Homo sapiens: one gene and its partner. The protein of the gene in region 2 interacts with the protein of the main gene of each other region in a pairwise test. Each region holds a gene or a part of one and is shown on either strand. Other genes may lie near its edges.

Region 1 (7,000 bases), on a different chromosome or scaffold from region 2:
ATAGCGATCCTGGTCCCTGTGGGCAGTCTGAAAACCAGGCCCATTTCTCTCAGCTCTAGTCCCAGGACCTTAGGGGCAGGTGGCTACAGCAGTGGCCCCCGCACATAAGGAAATCCATTCTGATCTCTGTGCTGGGTGATGCCATAAGGAACTCGGGCTCTGAGGCGACACTCCTGTATAAAGGGCCATTGTGTGGACTGGCCTCTGCTTTCTCTTTTCCAAAGGAGCATGTTGCTCCGAAGGCTGCTAGAGTCGAGAATGCCATCTGTAGCCCCTTCAAAGCAGACGGACTCTCACAGCCCAAGCAGCCATAGGGGTTCATGTCATAGGCTTTGAGATTTTTCAACAAACAAAATTCTGTGTGTGTGTGTGTGTGAGAGAGAGAGAGAGGGTTTATGGGCACAAGTTATAGTGAGGAAGGATGGCGCCCTGGTCACAGTGGAAGTGACAGGTGATCTTGCTAACCCACCATGGAGGCCACCATGAGTTGAGCTCCCATGGAGGAGGTGGTAATGAGGCTGCAGGCGACTGTCCACATTGCCACGGCCTCTCTGGACTACTCCAACAATTCCTGGCTAGCACCATGCCTTGTGCAGGACTCACTTGGCCCCTATATTGTGGTCTCTTTATGGCTTCCTCCCCTCTGACGCGCACAGATGTCCCTGTATGGGGCCCCATTACTTCCTCACCAGCAAAAGCCTTGAAGTCTGACTGGCTGTAGTCGTAAGGCGTAAACTCTTTTTCTGGTGGCTCTGGGTCCTTTGGCTTCTTGGAAATTTTGAGTCGTTTCTTCTCTTGTTTCTGTTCTGTGGTCCTTGGGTCGCTTGTTGCTCGCTCTCTCTTCTTTGCAGCATTTTCTAGCTGTAGATCAGGAACAGATGTGGGGGAGGAACAGGGAGGCACATGGGAACAGGGAACTCCACCGGCCTCAGCAATAGCTGGGACCCAGCTGCCTAAGTGGTAAGAAGAACAGTCAGTGGTGGGGAGAGGAGCTGTGGCTGGAACTTCGGGACCAACACTCAGGGTCAGCTGAAACAAATTCCTCACTGGACAATGACATGAGGTCATTTAAGAAAGGCAAGCAGGCCAGGTGCAGTGGCTCATGCCTATAATTCCAGTGCTTTGGGCGGCCTAGGTGGGAGGACTGCTTTAGGCAGTCTGAGACCAGCCTGGGCAACATAGCAAGACCCCTATCTCTACAAAAAAAAAGAAACAAATGTAGCTGGGCATGGTGGTGCGTGCTTGTAGTCCTAGCTACTTGGGAGGCTGAGGTGGGAGGATCACTTGAACCCAGGAGTACAAGGCTGCAATGAGCTATAATTGCACCACTGTACTCCAGCCTGGGCATCAGGGTAAGAGTAAGACCATGTCACTATTTTTTTTTTAAAAGGAAATTAAAAAAAAAAAAAAAAAAAAGGAAAGGCAGGGGGCAGGGGTTAAGAATTCGAGTGATAGCCTGGGCAATATAGTGAGACCCCGTCTCCACCAAAAACAATAACAAAAAATAGCTGGGAATGGTGGTGTGTGCCTGTGGTCTAGCTACTTGGGTGGTTGAGGAGGGAGGATCGTTTGAGCCCAAGAGTTTGAGGCTGTAGTGAGCTGCAACTGTGCCACTGCACTCCAGCCTGTGCAACAGAGGTAGACACTACTTCAAAAAAAAAAAAAAAAAAAAAAGAGTTCCAGAGTGCTCTGGGGTTTCATTCTCTAGAATGCAACATTTTTGTAGGACACAGCAGGACACACAACAAGCTTCAGCACTGTAACCTCAATACCTTTTCTACTACTACAGTTGAGTGGTCTGGCATATTTACCATAAACACAGTGGAAGAAGGTTAAGAGGAATTACAATATCAATCTTGTGGAGGTTTCGGAAATGAGGTAGACACTAATAGCCAAGCTAAGGTGAACCGGAAAGAAGTCAGGACTTAATATAAAGCACAGGGCAAGCCCCCTAAGATATCCAAGGAAGATCCTGACCACAAGCAGGGGCATCGTTTTTCAAAGGAAAAAGGAGAAAAGCTGGCACATACCACGACCTGCTGTCGGACGGAGATGGCCTGTTCTGCTGCAGCTTTGCACGCCTCCTTTGCCTGTTCCCGGGCAGCTGCAAGGGAGAGAACTTGTCTCTGGAGTTGGTGAATCCAGCAACCACCCTCCCCTCCATCTCCATCCCCCTCCGACTTGGCCTAGCCACAGGGGTTGTCACGGCTGATTCCTCCTCCCTCTCAGGTCCCCGGTCCCCCATCTCTGCAGGACAGGCTGCCTCAGAGCTCAGGCTCAGGTGCTCTGCCCACCTTCAGCTACACGTGAGCTGATCCTCCCCAGCCCTGCCTGCTCCTCTTCTGTGAACCTAAATGCTCAGTGGCCTGTGGACCTGAGGGCGTTTAACAGGATCGTCACCATCACCATCGTGGACAAACCTGCTCAAACCAGCTACTTTGGCTGCCAGCAACTCCAGCTTTCCAGCTGCTCAGGACAAAACCTTCATCCAAGGTTCCCTTCCCTTTTCTCACATGCCACATCCACCTCATCATCAAATGCTGTCAGCTTTGCTATGGGACAGATCAAGGCTCTGACAGCTTCTCACCACCTCCTCTGCTCCCACGCTGGTCTCAAAGCCACCATCCCCTCTCGCCTGAGCCACTGCCATGTCTCCTATCCCTTCCTGGACTCCCATCCTGTCCTCTATAGTCTACTGTTGACACAGCAGCCAGAGTGCCACATGTCAGTCACTTCCCCCCGTCTGCTCAGCACCCTCCTGGCTTCTGAACTCAGAGTAAAAGGCAGCGTCATCCCGTGGGCCTCTGCTGGCTCCTTCCCCATCTCCTGCTCTTCTCTACCCGCTCTGCTCATGCAGGCCCACTTGCTGCTGCTCAGCATGCCCAGTGAACTAGCCCCAGGGCCTCTGGGCTCGCTGTGCTGTGGCTCCAGAACTCTTCTCTAGGTCACTGCAGGTCTCGTCAATGTCGCATTCATTAGACTGCCTTCTCCAACCACCAACGAGACAGCTACAGCACCTCCAGCACTCCCCACCAATCTCTCTGCACAGCACCTGCTGCCATCTGCCAGGATAGATACTGATTGCCCACCATCCCTCAGCAGAAGGGAAGCCCCACAGGGGCTTCATTCATCGCCGTATCTGGCACTTGGCTGAAACAGCGGGTGTGCAACAGCCATTCTTTAACAGCCGACTGAGTTGCAAGGAAGTGAGTGTTACCTGTTTGCTCAGCTGCCTTCTTCTTGACAGCTTCTTTAGAGTCTTTTTGTACTTGTACCTGGGCCAGCTTCCAGCGGTTGCTGATCTATAATGAAAGCAAATATAACAAAAAAAACCCTCCAAAGTCAGCCACCTAAGTCTGTCTTACTTTTCATGAGGTGACGAAGGGCAGGTTAACCTAAGAAGTACACACATTCTAAGTCATAAATTTTCAAATCTAAGGGCATGAAAAATAAATTTCATGCTGGCTTTATTGCTAAAATCCCTATTAAGGACAAAGTGCTACTGTCCTCCAGGCACTGGGCCATCCATCATCTCATTCAATCCCTCTGTAACCCTGGGAAAAAGGTACTGTCATCACCCTCTCTTTAGAGATGAGCAAACAGACTCCGGGAGAGTAAATAACTTGTCCAAGGGACATGGTCAGTAAATGACAGAAGCAGACTCAAGGCTGGGCTTCCGCAAGTCTGCTGTGTTTCTTTATGACACCCCACGGACCTATGGCGTTACAACACATGGAGGTGACACTGGGCATAACACACAGGACGTGCAGTTGTTCAGTGTGACATAACCCGTGGGGGGAAAAGAGGAGAGAAGGCAGAAGCCCCACCTGATTCCCCATTTCCAAAAATAGCAAGCTAACTCAGGGACAGGAACGGGGCTGGGGGACCTCTCGGTTTTGCCTAACAAAAGAGCTCTGCTGCCACACAGAGGAAGCCAGTCGCCCATGTCATCAGAGCAGACGCTTCCTAAAGGGAGGAAGGAGGCTGCGAACAACAGTTCACGTTCTGGCTCTGGGGAACATCTCAAGAGGGTCTAGGGGAGGTGTGCTCTCATTCTTACTCATAATGCTGGTAAAAACAAGCCAGATAAGTAAGATAGAGTGTTTTAAAATTAAAGCTGTCACCTTTAAGAGCCTTAAAGTAACAGACATCTATAAAAATGCATCAAGCTGTATATTTAATATTTGTGTACTTTACTACATATAGATTAAACCTCAATTTAAAAACCGCAAATGAAGATTTGTTTCTTACAAAGTTTCCAAGTGCTTTTCTTTTTCTTTTTTGGCTAGAGTTCGCTCTGTCGCGCAGGTTGGAGCGCAGTGGCGCAACCTCGGCTCACTGCAAGCTCCGCCCCCCAGGTTCAAGCGATTCTCCTGCCTCAGCCCCCCGAGTAGCTGGGACTACAGGCGCCTGCCACGACGCCTGGCTAATTTTTTGTATTTTTAGTAGAGACGGGGTTTCACCATGTTAGCCAGGATGGTTTCGATCTCCTGACCTCATGATCCGCCCGCCTCGGCCTCTCAAAGTGCTGGGATTACAGGCGTGAGCCACCATGCCCAGCCCAAGTGCTTTTAAGAATCTCACTGAAGTTCTGGACCCTTTCCCTAGAAACAATGCTAGAAAATAAAGGGCTTTTGCATTCATTTTCACGGGATTCACAGATGAGATAGGCTTGTCTAAAACAGAAACCTGGTATGAATAATTAAGAAATCCCCTTTTCTTAGAAAGTCTCTTTTAGGGCCAGGCGCAGTAGCTCACGTCTGTAGTCCCAGCACTTTGGGAGGCCAAGGCGGGTGGATCACCTGAGGTCAGGAGTTCGAGACCAGCCTGGTCAACATGGTGAAACCCCATCTCTACAAAAATTAGCCGGGCATGACAGCAGGTGCCTGTAATCCCAGCTACTTGGGAGGCTGAGGCAGAACTGCTTGAACCTGGGAGGTGGAGGTTGCAGTGAGTCAAGATTGTGCCTCTGCACTCCAGCCTGGGTGACAAAGCGAGACTCCATCTCAAAAAAAAAAAAAAAAAAAAAAAGTCTCTTTTAGAACAGGTGACAAGTCCACTTACTTCATAGATTTTGGTTGATGGATCGAACTTCGCTGCCTGAGAGACGGGAGCACGGTGTCCCAGTGAGGGCAGAAACTGGAGGAAGGAAATGGCTGTGTGAAACGCTGCCGGGAACGGAATCTAGAGCCACGGGGCAGAAGCGCTCAGATGGGGGGTTGCTGGTGCCTTGTCAGCGTCTTTGCCAGGACACCAGGGCAGCCGACACACTGGCTTCAGAGGCTTCCTTCCCAGGTAAAAGCATGTACAGCTGTAGGCATCTCTGCATATCCTGTCAGCCCTGACAAAACTACTACTCACCATCCTAAATGGATTTTCAAAGGACTCCATGATGTTCTGGGCTTTTTTCTGTGCAACTGTCAATGGACCCTTTTTACTGTCTTCAGCACTAGGTTCCTGCAGGGACAGACAAAAAACGATCACTAATGACCATGATCATCTGTGACATCAAGATGCAAGCAAGAGAGCAACAGTTAACAGTGATTTTTTTTTTTTTTCTGGAGACAGAGTCTCGCTCTTTTGCCCAGGCTGGAGTACAGTGGTGTGATCTCTGCTCACTGCAACCTCCACCTCCTGTGTTCAAGCGATTCTCCTGCCTCAGCCTCCTGAGTAGCTGGGATTACAGGCACGTGCCACCATGCCCAGCTAATTTTTGTATTTTTAGCAGAGACCAGGTTTCACCATATTGGCCAGGCTGGTCTTGAACTCCTGACCTCAAGTGGTCCACCCGCCTTGGCTTCCCAAAGTGCTGGGATTACAGGTGTGAGCCACCGCACGCACCCGGCCAGTAACAGTGATATTAATACCAATGGCTAAGGCTAATTTTTCATACACTCTCTTATGTATAAGGTGTTGTGTCTGCAACAGCACACAGTAGCATTTCAATATCAATGTGCTGGATCAGTGAATTCTCAGCATGTCCTCATAGCCTATGAGGTGGTATTACTCTCACCATCTTACAGAGGAGGAAACTGAGGCCTACAGAGGTTGTGACAGTCTTTCAGAGGCTTGCAGTGAATACAAGCAGACCAAGGATCTAAACCCACCATGGTCTGGCTCTAGAACATGAGGTCTTAATTGATGCCTGAAATTTATTTTATGTATGTATGTATTATTTTTTTGAGTGGAGTCTTGCTCTGTTGCCCAGGTTGGAGTGCAGTGGTGCCATCTCTGCTCACTGCAACCTCCGCCTCCTGGATTCAAGTGATTCTCCTGCCTCAGCCTCACGAGTAGCTGGGATTACAAGCGTGCGCCACAATGCCCGGCTAATTAAAGACAGGGTTTCACCATGTTGGCCAGGCTGGTCTCAAACTCCTGACCTCAGGTGATATGCCCGCCTTGCCCTCCAAAAGTGCTGGGATTACAGGTGTGAGCCACCACGCCAGGCCTGAAATTTAGTATTACATATCTTTATAGGGAATCATTGAAATTATGCAACAAAATGCTGCTTCCAACTGGGTTCATAAATATGTGCTATCCTTTTGCTTCATCTGTAATTATGCGCCCTTGCAACACAAGAGTGCAGGGAGACCACAGCCTCCTTTACACCAAACAGCACTTCCGTATCAAAGCAGCCCAGAGCTCATGCTAACACGCTTAGCTGCTAAATCATCTTCATGACTCAAATTAGCTCTGAGGTCAGCTAAAGCGCCTAGTATTTTCTCATTAATTGCTAAAGCAAGGCCCAATCTAGATTTATGTAATTAAGTTAAAAACCAAAGTGAAGCCTGGGCGACATGGTGAAACCCCACCTCTACAAAACATACAAAAATTGGCTGGGCATGGTGGCATACACCTGTAGTCCCAGCTACTCGAGAGAAGGCTGGGGCAGAGGGATTGCTTGAGCCCAGGAGGCAGAGGTTGCAGTGAGCCAGGATGGTGCCACTGCACTCCCACCTGGGTGACAGGATGAGATCCTGTCACAAAAAAAAAAAAAAAA
Region 2 (7,571 bases):
ACAGGCCACTGTGTGGGTGGTACAATAAAAACACGATATGGAAAAACAGGGCAAGGTGGTTTAAAACTAGAATTCAGAGACCAACCAAGACAAAGGCCACCAAGGCTTTCCAACAGAGGGGCACAAGGGAGAAATTCACACACAAGGCCACATGGACGTTTCACTGATGGCAAGGGGGAATCAAGAGGGTCCATGCTAAGGGACACACTCAAGAACAAGCCAAAGGCTGGGCGCAGCGGCTCATGCCTCCCAGCACTTTGGGAAGCTGAGGAAAATGGAATGCTTGAGCTCAGGAGTTTGAGACCAGCCCAGGCAACATGGCAAGACCCTGTCTCCACCAAAAATACAAAAAAATAGCCAGATATGGTGGTGTGAGCCTGTGGTACCAGCTACTTGGGAGGCTGAGGTGGAAGGGTTGCTTGAGGTTGAGCCGGGGCGGGTGGGGGGGTTGCAGCAGAGGTTGCAGTGAGCCTAGATTGTGCTACTGCACTCCAGCCTGGGCAACAGAGCAACACTGTCTCAAAACAAGGCCGGGCGCGGTGGCTCACGCCTGTAATCCCAGCACTTTGGGAGGCCGAGGCGGGCAGATCATGAGGTCAGGAGATCGAGACCATCCTGGCTAACAAGGTGAAACCCCGTCTCTACTAAAAATACAAAAAATTAGCCAGGCGCGGTGGCGGGCGCCTGTAGTCCCAGCTACTCGGGAGGCTGAGGCAGGAGAATGGCGTGAACCCAGGAAGCGGAGCTTACAGTGAGCCGAGATTGCACCACTGCAGTCCGCAGTCCGGCCTGGGCGACAGAGCGAGACTCTGTCTCAAAAAAAAAAAAAAAAAAAAAAACAAATAAACAACAAGAAAGAACAAGCCGGCTAGGTGCGGTGGCTTATGCCTGTAATCCCGGCACTTTGGGAGGCTGAGGTGGGCAGATCACCCGAGGTCAGGAGTTTGAGACCAGCCTGGCCAACATGGTGAAACACCGTCTCTACTAAAAATACAAAAATTAGCCAGGCATGATGGCACGTGCCTGTAATCCCAGCTATTTGGGAGGCTGAGGCAGAAGAATTGCTTGAACCTGGGAGGCGGAGGTTGCAGTGAGCTGAGATCGCGCCATTGCACTCCAGCCTGGGCGTTGCAGCAAGACTGTCTCAAAAAAAAAAAAAAAAAAAAAAAAAAAAAGCCAAGACCCAACATCCTGCCATCCTGTTGTCTGAACACTTCACCACATCCTGTTCATGAAGTGATTTCAGTGGAATTAAACCTGACCTGTTTAGCTTTATTTTGAGATAATGAATCCTGAGTGGAATTAGCTACAATCCCAGTCAATAGCCAATACAGGCCTCTTTGCACAGCCTGGGGCAGCATTAGTTATATATCACATCAGCCTGATGTTCAGCTCCACAGCCCTCTATGTGAAAACCACTCATGATACCCAAGACCTGCTCCAACCTCCCATTTCATAGGGGGGACAGTGTTCGCCACCCTGCCACTACTCAACCACCCTAGACCCCATAGAGTTGAGGTAATTAAAAGACATGGTGCTTTAGTGAAGCACATGGTATGTGGAAGGAGCTTAACAAACTCTGGCTACTATTACTACAAACACACTCATGGCTCCCAGGACCACATCATATCTTCCAATTAAAAAGAAAAGAAAGAGCTACTCGTGGTAGTGGTTTCTAGTATAACCAAATTATTGGATTTGGGTAAAAGCTACTTCTATATGGTGTGTGGTATTACAACTTCTTAACTTATTAAGTAACCTCAGCAGGTTGGGATTAGAGGAGACCCACACCCACAGGGAAGACAAAAACCATAAAATACAAGTTATACCTTGCACAGAGTGACAATGCAGGGGACATTCTCCACACTTAGTCGTATGCAGTCATAAGGGTCATCTGACAATTCAATGTCCTTCGACCCCTCTTCATCCTCCAAAACTCGAACCCTTGGTATCCTGGAAGCAGAAGCACTAGTAAAATTCCCACTTGGAGGAGGAAAAATAACTTCTTTTTAAGATTGAGAATAGGAGTTGGAATCCCTGTGTCTCACAAGAGAAAGACACGCTATGCCTATTCTTTATCATCCTCATCCCTGTCATCCCTGTCAAAAGCACACAGGAGGCGCCGCAGTGCAATGAGGAAAGGCATCTTTTAGAAAATGATGCTGGGTCAATCAGATATCCCAATGGAAAAAAAAGAATCTCAATCCCTACCTCACACCACACACACGAAGCCATACCAAATAGACCATAGATATAAAAAATAAAAGACAAGACAATAAAGCATTTAGAAAAAAACATCTGCATGACCTTGGAGTAGACAACTATTTCTTGAACAGGATACAGAAAGAGAAAAAAGTTACATATTCAATTATAACATCATGAACTTCTGTATATCAGAAGACATCATTTAAAAACTAAAAATATAATCTGGGGAGATAAAATACTACCTGACAGATTACATAAAGAATTCCTATTAAACAAAAAAAAGACAGCCCAACAGAAAAATGGACAAAAGACTCAAACGTAGAATATATTTGGATGTCTTCATAAAAGAGGCTGTCTGAGTAGCCAATAAACCAAGAAAAGGTGCTCAATTTAAATATCTATTAAAAATGCAAATTAAAACTACACTGTGATACCAAGGCACAACCAAAATAACTATTAAAAAAAAAAACAAAAAAAAAAAAACGCCAGGCATGGTGGCTCATGCCTGTAATCCCAGTACTTTCAGAGGCCAAGGCGGGAGGATCACCTGAGGTCAGGAGTTCGAGACCAGCCTGGCCAAGATGGTGAAACCCCATCTCTACTAAAAATACAAAAATTAGCTGGGTGTGGTGGTGCACACCTGTAATCCCAGCTACTTGGGAGGCTGAGGTAAGAGAATCGCTTGAACCTGGGAAGTGGAGGTTGCAGTGAACTGAGATCACGCCACTGCAGTCCAGCCTGGGAGACAGAGTGAGACTCCATCTCAAAAAAAAAAAGCAAGAGTTGACAAAAATGTGAAACAACCCGGAACTCTTACATACACTGCTGGTGGAAGTGTTAACTGGTAAAACACTTTGTGAAACTGGCAGCATCTACCGTAACTAAAGATAGCCATACCCTATAACCCAGAACACTCCTCCCTAACAGAAATAGAGAAATATGTGCACCAAAGACATGCACAAAATGTTCATGATGCCCATCCCTATTTGTAATAGCCTCAAACTGGAAATGAACCAGATGGCCATCAACAGTAGACTGATAAACAACAGCAGACTGGACAGTAGACTGGATAAACAGCAGACTGGACAAAGTCACACAATGGAACACCATACAGCAAAAAGCAAGCTATGACTAAGGCAGCAACACAGATCTCTCAAAACACAATGCTTAGTGAATGAGGCAGACACAAAACAGAACATAGTATATGATACCATTTATATCAAGTACAAAAGTAATCTATTCTTTTAAGATGCTGGTTATCATCAGTGAGTGTAATTGCATGGGGGTACAGAAGGTGTGGGATGCTTCTGGGGTGCTGGCAACATTCTGTTTCTTCAGCTGGGTACTGAAAAACACATTTAACCTATAAAGTCAATTCACTCCAGGCTGGGTTGGAGGAGCCAGGAAGGAAGAGGTGGTCCATCCAGCTACTGTAATGGAAACAGCATTAGTACTTTTCCCAGTTCCTCTAACAAAACCCCCCATGATTGAGCCCTGCTGGCCATCCATACACAAGGCAACATCTAGATCAGATCAGGGGAGCTTCAGCCAGAGAATGTTGACAAGGGCCAAGGAGTTCTGTAAGGGTCTTCCCCATTTGGAGCCTTCCCATCAGAGGAAGTTCTACTAAGTAATATCCTATTTGAACAAGTTGTCAACCATTTACACACACACATACACACACACACGCACGCACGCACGCACGCACGCACAGTATCTCCCAATTTCCCAACCCTTTGGCTACAACAAGCCTGGGCAGAAGGGCTAAAGAATACCCTCAGGTGGCCTTTACCCTTCTAAAGGACCCTGAATATGCCAATAGTCTCTCCACATACCAGGGGGACTTGATGCCTTAGAGTCCCCATTCCTTGCTGCCTGCAGGGCTGTTCTTGGTCTGAGGATGAGACTATGGCTGTGCCCATGACAGGTGTCCTCCCCTACCTGAGCAGCTGGGTTAACCTTTCTGGTATACAGTTTGGCCAGCAACTCCCCCACAGCTAAACAGCCTTGTCTGGTTCCCAATCTCTCTTTTTGCCTGGGTGCCTATAGGAACCAGCTGGCAGATGGGGAGTCATTTCTGAGGCTCAAGATAAATCAGATGACAGCTTCCTTTCCTTCCCCAACAGGGCCCGAGCACCAGCTACTGCTGTGGGATCTGGCACGCAAGCTCCCACGGTGGCCAAGAGTGCCAGGCTCACATTTCAAATAGTCTCAACAAGGAGCCTAGTGGCACAGCTAGGGGTGGGGGACTCTACAGCTTTCATTCTCAGCAAATATTCCAGCCTGCAATTTTTGTCTGCTCTAAATTACACAGGGAGTCTAAACTCATCATAGAAAAGCTCTAAAAAACAGGTAAATGTTATGTTGGCCAAAATATGAGCACTGAAAAATAATTACAGTGATTACTTGGGGGTACATATTTCCAGACACATTACATATAAGAACTACCAAAGTAAAATACAACAAACCAACAAACAAAAACCAGGATGAGGGGACTGCATTTAGTGAACTATTTTCCATATTAACATGCCTTTAAATAGGCTGCTGTGTGGACTTCAATCCCCTCCATTGTGAAACTCAGGTTGTTTCCAGTTTCTTACCATTACAAAGCAGTGTAATGTTTATTCTAGGATGTGATGAACATCCTAGAATAAACATCTTTGCTCATTTATTCAATTATGTCCTTAGGTTATATCCCTAGAAGTTTCTAATCCTCGTTTTTTAATAGGATCCTCTGTTACCTTAATGTAGGCTCTCTCATAGGATGAACACCCTATCCCACGTATTTACTCATAAATGCTGCAAATTTTCCTCAAAGTACTTGGAGCATAAAAGGGGGAAAGGTCAATCAGTCAGAATAAATGTCAACTCCAAAAAAGCATAGCAACTTGTCCCTTCTACACAACCTGTTTGGAAAGCTGAACCATGTGGAATAGCCATTTCCTCTTCTTAAACCAAAGGGAAGCCTGTTACCCTGCTTTTAGAACACACATGTGTACAATCAAGCAATATGCAAGCACTTACTATGTGTCAGGTACTGTTCATGGTGCTAGGAATATAGGCAAGTACAAAACAGGCAAAATCCTTGCCCCCATAGAGTTCACCCAGTAATAGTATTTGGATAGTTGGCCTGTAGGTGGTGTCTACTCTTCTTGGCTTCTCTGTAGTTTTCTAATATTTTTCTAAATGGTAGGTGTCTATTTATAAAAATAACAATACAAAAAATAAATACAGAATATACGTATATATGTAGTTTTAATTCACGAAATCTATCTTTTCTGGAGTTTAACGTTAGATGTCACCATTTTCAATGTTAAAACCCCCTGTTATCTTCACATATGAGCTACAATAGAAATTTCCTCAGTGTTCCATTACAAGTGTCTGCTCTGGTTCTCCACAGGTTCGCAGAGCTGTTTCTAGGAAGACTTACCTTGTATTGAAGAGAGCAGCCTTTACAGCAATGGAAATGGCATCAAACAAATTTCCACCACATTCCAGAAGCTAAGGGAGACAGGAATTGAAAAAGGAAAAAAAACCAAGCATCACTTATTACTTTAGGTATTACCCCAGTTAAAGGACACTGCTTTTTTTTTTTTGAGACAGAGTCTCGCTCTGTCACTCAGGCTGGAGTGCAGTGGTGCAATCTTGGCTAACTGCAACCTCTGCCTCCCAGGTTCAAGTAATTCTCCCACCTCAGCCTCCCGAATAGCTGGGATTACACGTGTGCGCCACCACCCCCAGCTAATTTTTGTATTTTAGGGTTTCACCATGTTGGCCAGGCTGGTCTTGAACTCCTGACCAAAAGTGATCCGCCTACCTCAGCCTCCCAAAGTGCTGGGGTATAGGCATGAGCCACCACGCCCGGCCAGGACACCGATTTTTTTTTTTCTTTCCCTAAATCTATTCTGTGGTCAAGGACACTGATTTCTAAGAAATGCTGACTGTGTGTTTATAAAATAAAGATAACATGTGGCTTCTCTCCTGGCTAGCCATGCAGTGACTGCAACTCACTGACACAGTCCTTCACCCTAATTACAGGCACTGCCTTGTCATAGCTGTGCTTACGTGGCCCATGCACACAAGGTCACAGTTGGCAGGGCTGTGGTACCAACACTCAGAGGCCATGGCTTGTGGGTGGGCTCCTCTCACAGGCACTTCAGGCAGTTGGGGCTGCCCTGAAGGTGGGACTGATCACCTTTATTTTGCCCCAGATAGCTCCCAATTGTACTCCAAGTGTTACTCTAATCTTTGCTAACATATGCCTGGCCTCCAAACAAGGAGAAAACGGTGGCTACTGATGTTGCGGCTGCTACTAGGTTCACATTTACTAGTGTAATTACTTCTCGTATGTAATGATCAATGTATATCTGATGCTCAGACATGAAATACTACATGTTTTACATTACTTATAATGAAGACTAAAGTCTCTCAGACAAGCTTCTGCCCATGAGCGAAAGTGTTGAGTGCACTTACGTATGCTCATCTAGCAGGGAAAATTAGAGCACATTTAACTGGAAGGTGGCATATCCTTCTGTCCTCATTTTAGAGAGGCCTTGGCCTGAGGTTATGGAATAAAGCCGACTGGGCTGCCCCAAATAAGAAAGGTGAGAAGTCACACATAGAAAGAAAAGTCATGTAGTTCTGTTTTTGTTTAGAGTCTATCTCCTCTGCAGTTGAACTGTGAACTCCTAAAGGCTGGGACTCTGTAGTTTTGTTCATCCTTTTATCCCCAGAGCCCAACAGAAGGGGTGCTATGAGGAAGAAGGTTAGTGATTATTTGTGAAAGAACCCATCAAAAGACAGGCTTGTGACCAATCACCCCACCAAAGGTCAGCTGTGTGTTGTTAGTGCAGCAAAGTTCTAACAGGTTTCCCTCTTGGAGTAAAAACTGATGCCATTAGAGAACTATAAAGAGCAAAGCAAAGTGAAATTTCCATGAAGTTAAATTTTCACTCTCATAAAATAACCGAACTGAGGGGAAAAAAACCAATACTGGAAACAGGTGGGTCATCTGACTGTAATAGGTTTGAAGTAAGTAAGTATGAAAACATGGCAGGGTGCCCAGCAAATATCTGTTTGAACATGGGCTCTGTCTGAGGACTAACCAGACCAGTTGGTAAAAAGAAATTAGGAGGTTTCTTTTCTACTATCTTGCTTCAAGGATTGCTTCACAGATTTCCACCACCTCGCTTCAAACATGGACTCAATCTATTCAGTATATCACCCATCCACTGATGAAAACTATGTGAATGCCAAAAAATGGATCGGCCTCATCAATAATACAATTTTCAAAAATGCTTTTCTAATTCATTAAAAACTTTTCTGAAGATGACAACTTTTTTTTTTTTTAAAGATGGATTCTCACT

Evidence for each region.
Region 1: the proteins of EXOSC7 (region 2) and EXOSC10 interact in binary tests that used the Homo sapiens proteins (3 or more experiments, as listed by UniProt).

Annotation. Positions count from the first base shown.
Region 1 is NC_000001.11:11,068,870-11,075,869, forward strand, and holds part of EXOSC10 (exosome complex component 10), read right to left. Parts: intron 5,458-7,000; coding exon 5,362-5,457; intron 5,140-5,361; coding exon 5,065-5,139; intron 3,303-5,064; coding exon 3,218-3,302; intron 2,120-3,217; coding exon of another isoform or gene 2,105-2,119; coding exon 2,031-2,104; intron 862-2,030; coding exon 690-861; intron 1-689. UniProt on the Homo sapiens protein: Catalytic component of the RNA exosome complex which has 3'->5' exoribonuclease activity and participates in a multitude of cellular RNA processing and degradation events.
Region 2 is NC_000003.12:44,999,673-45,007,243, reverse strand, and holds part of EXOSC7 (exosome complex component RRP42), read right to left. Parts: intron 5,707-7,571; coding exon 5,636-5,706; intron 1,954-5,635; coding exon 1,830-1,953; intron 1-1,829. UniProt on the Homo sapiens protein: Non-catalytic component of the RNA exosome complex which has 3'->5' exoribonuclease activity and participates in a multitude of cellular RNA processing and degradation events.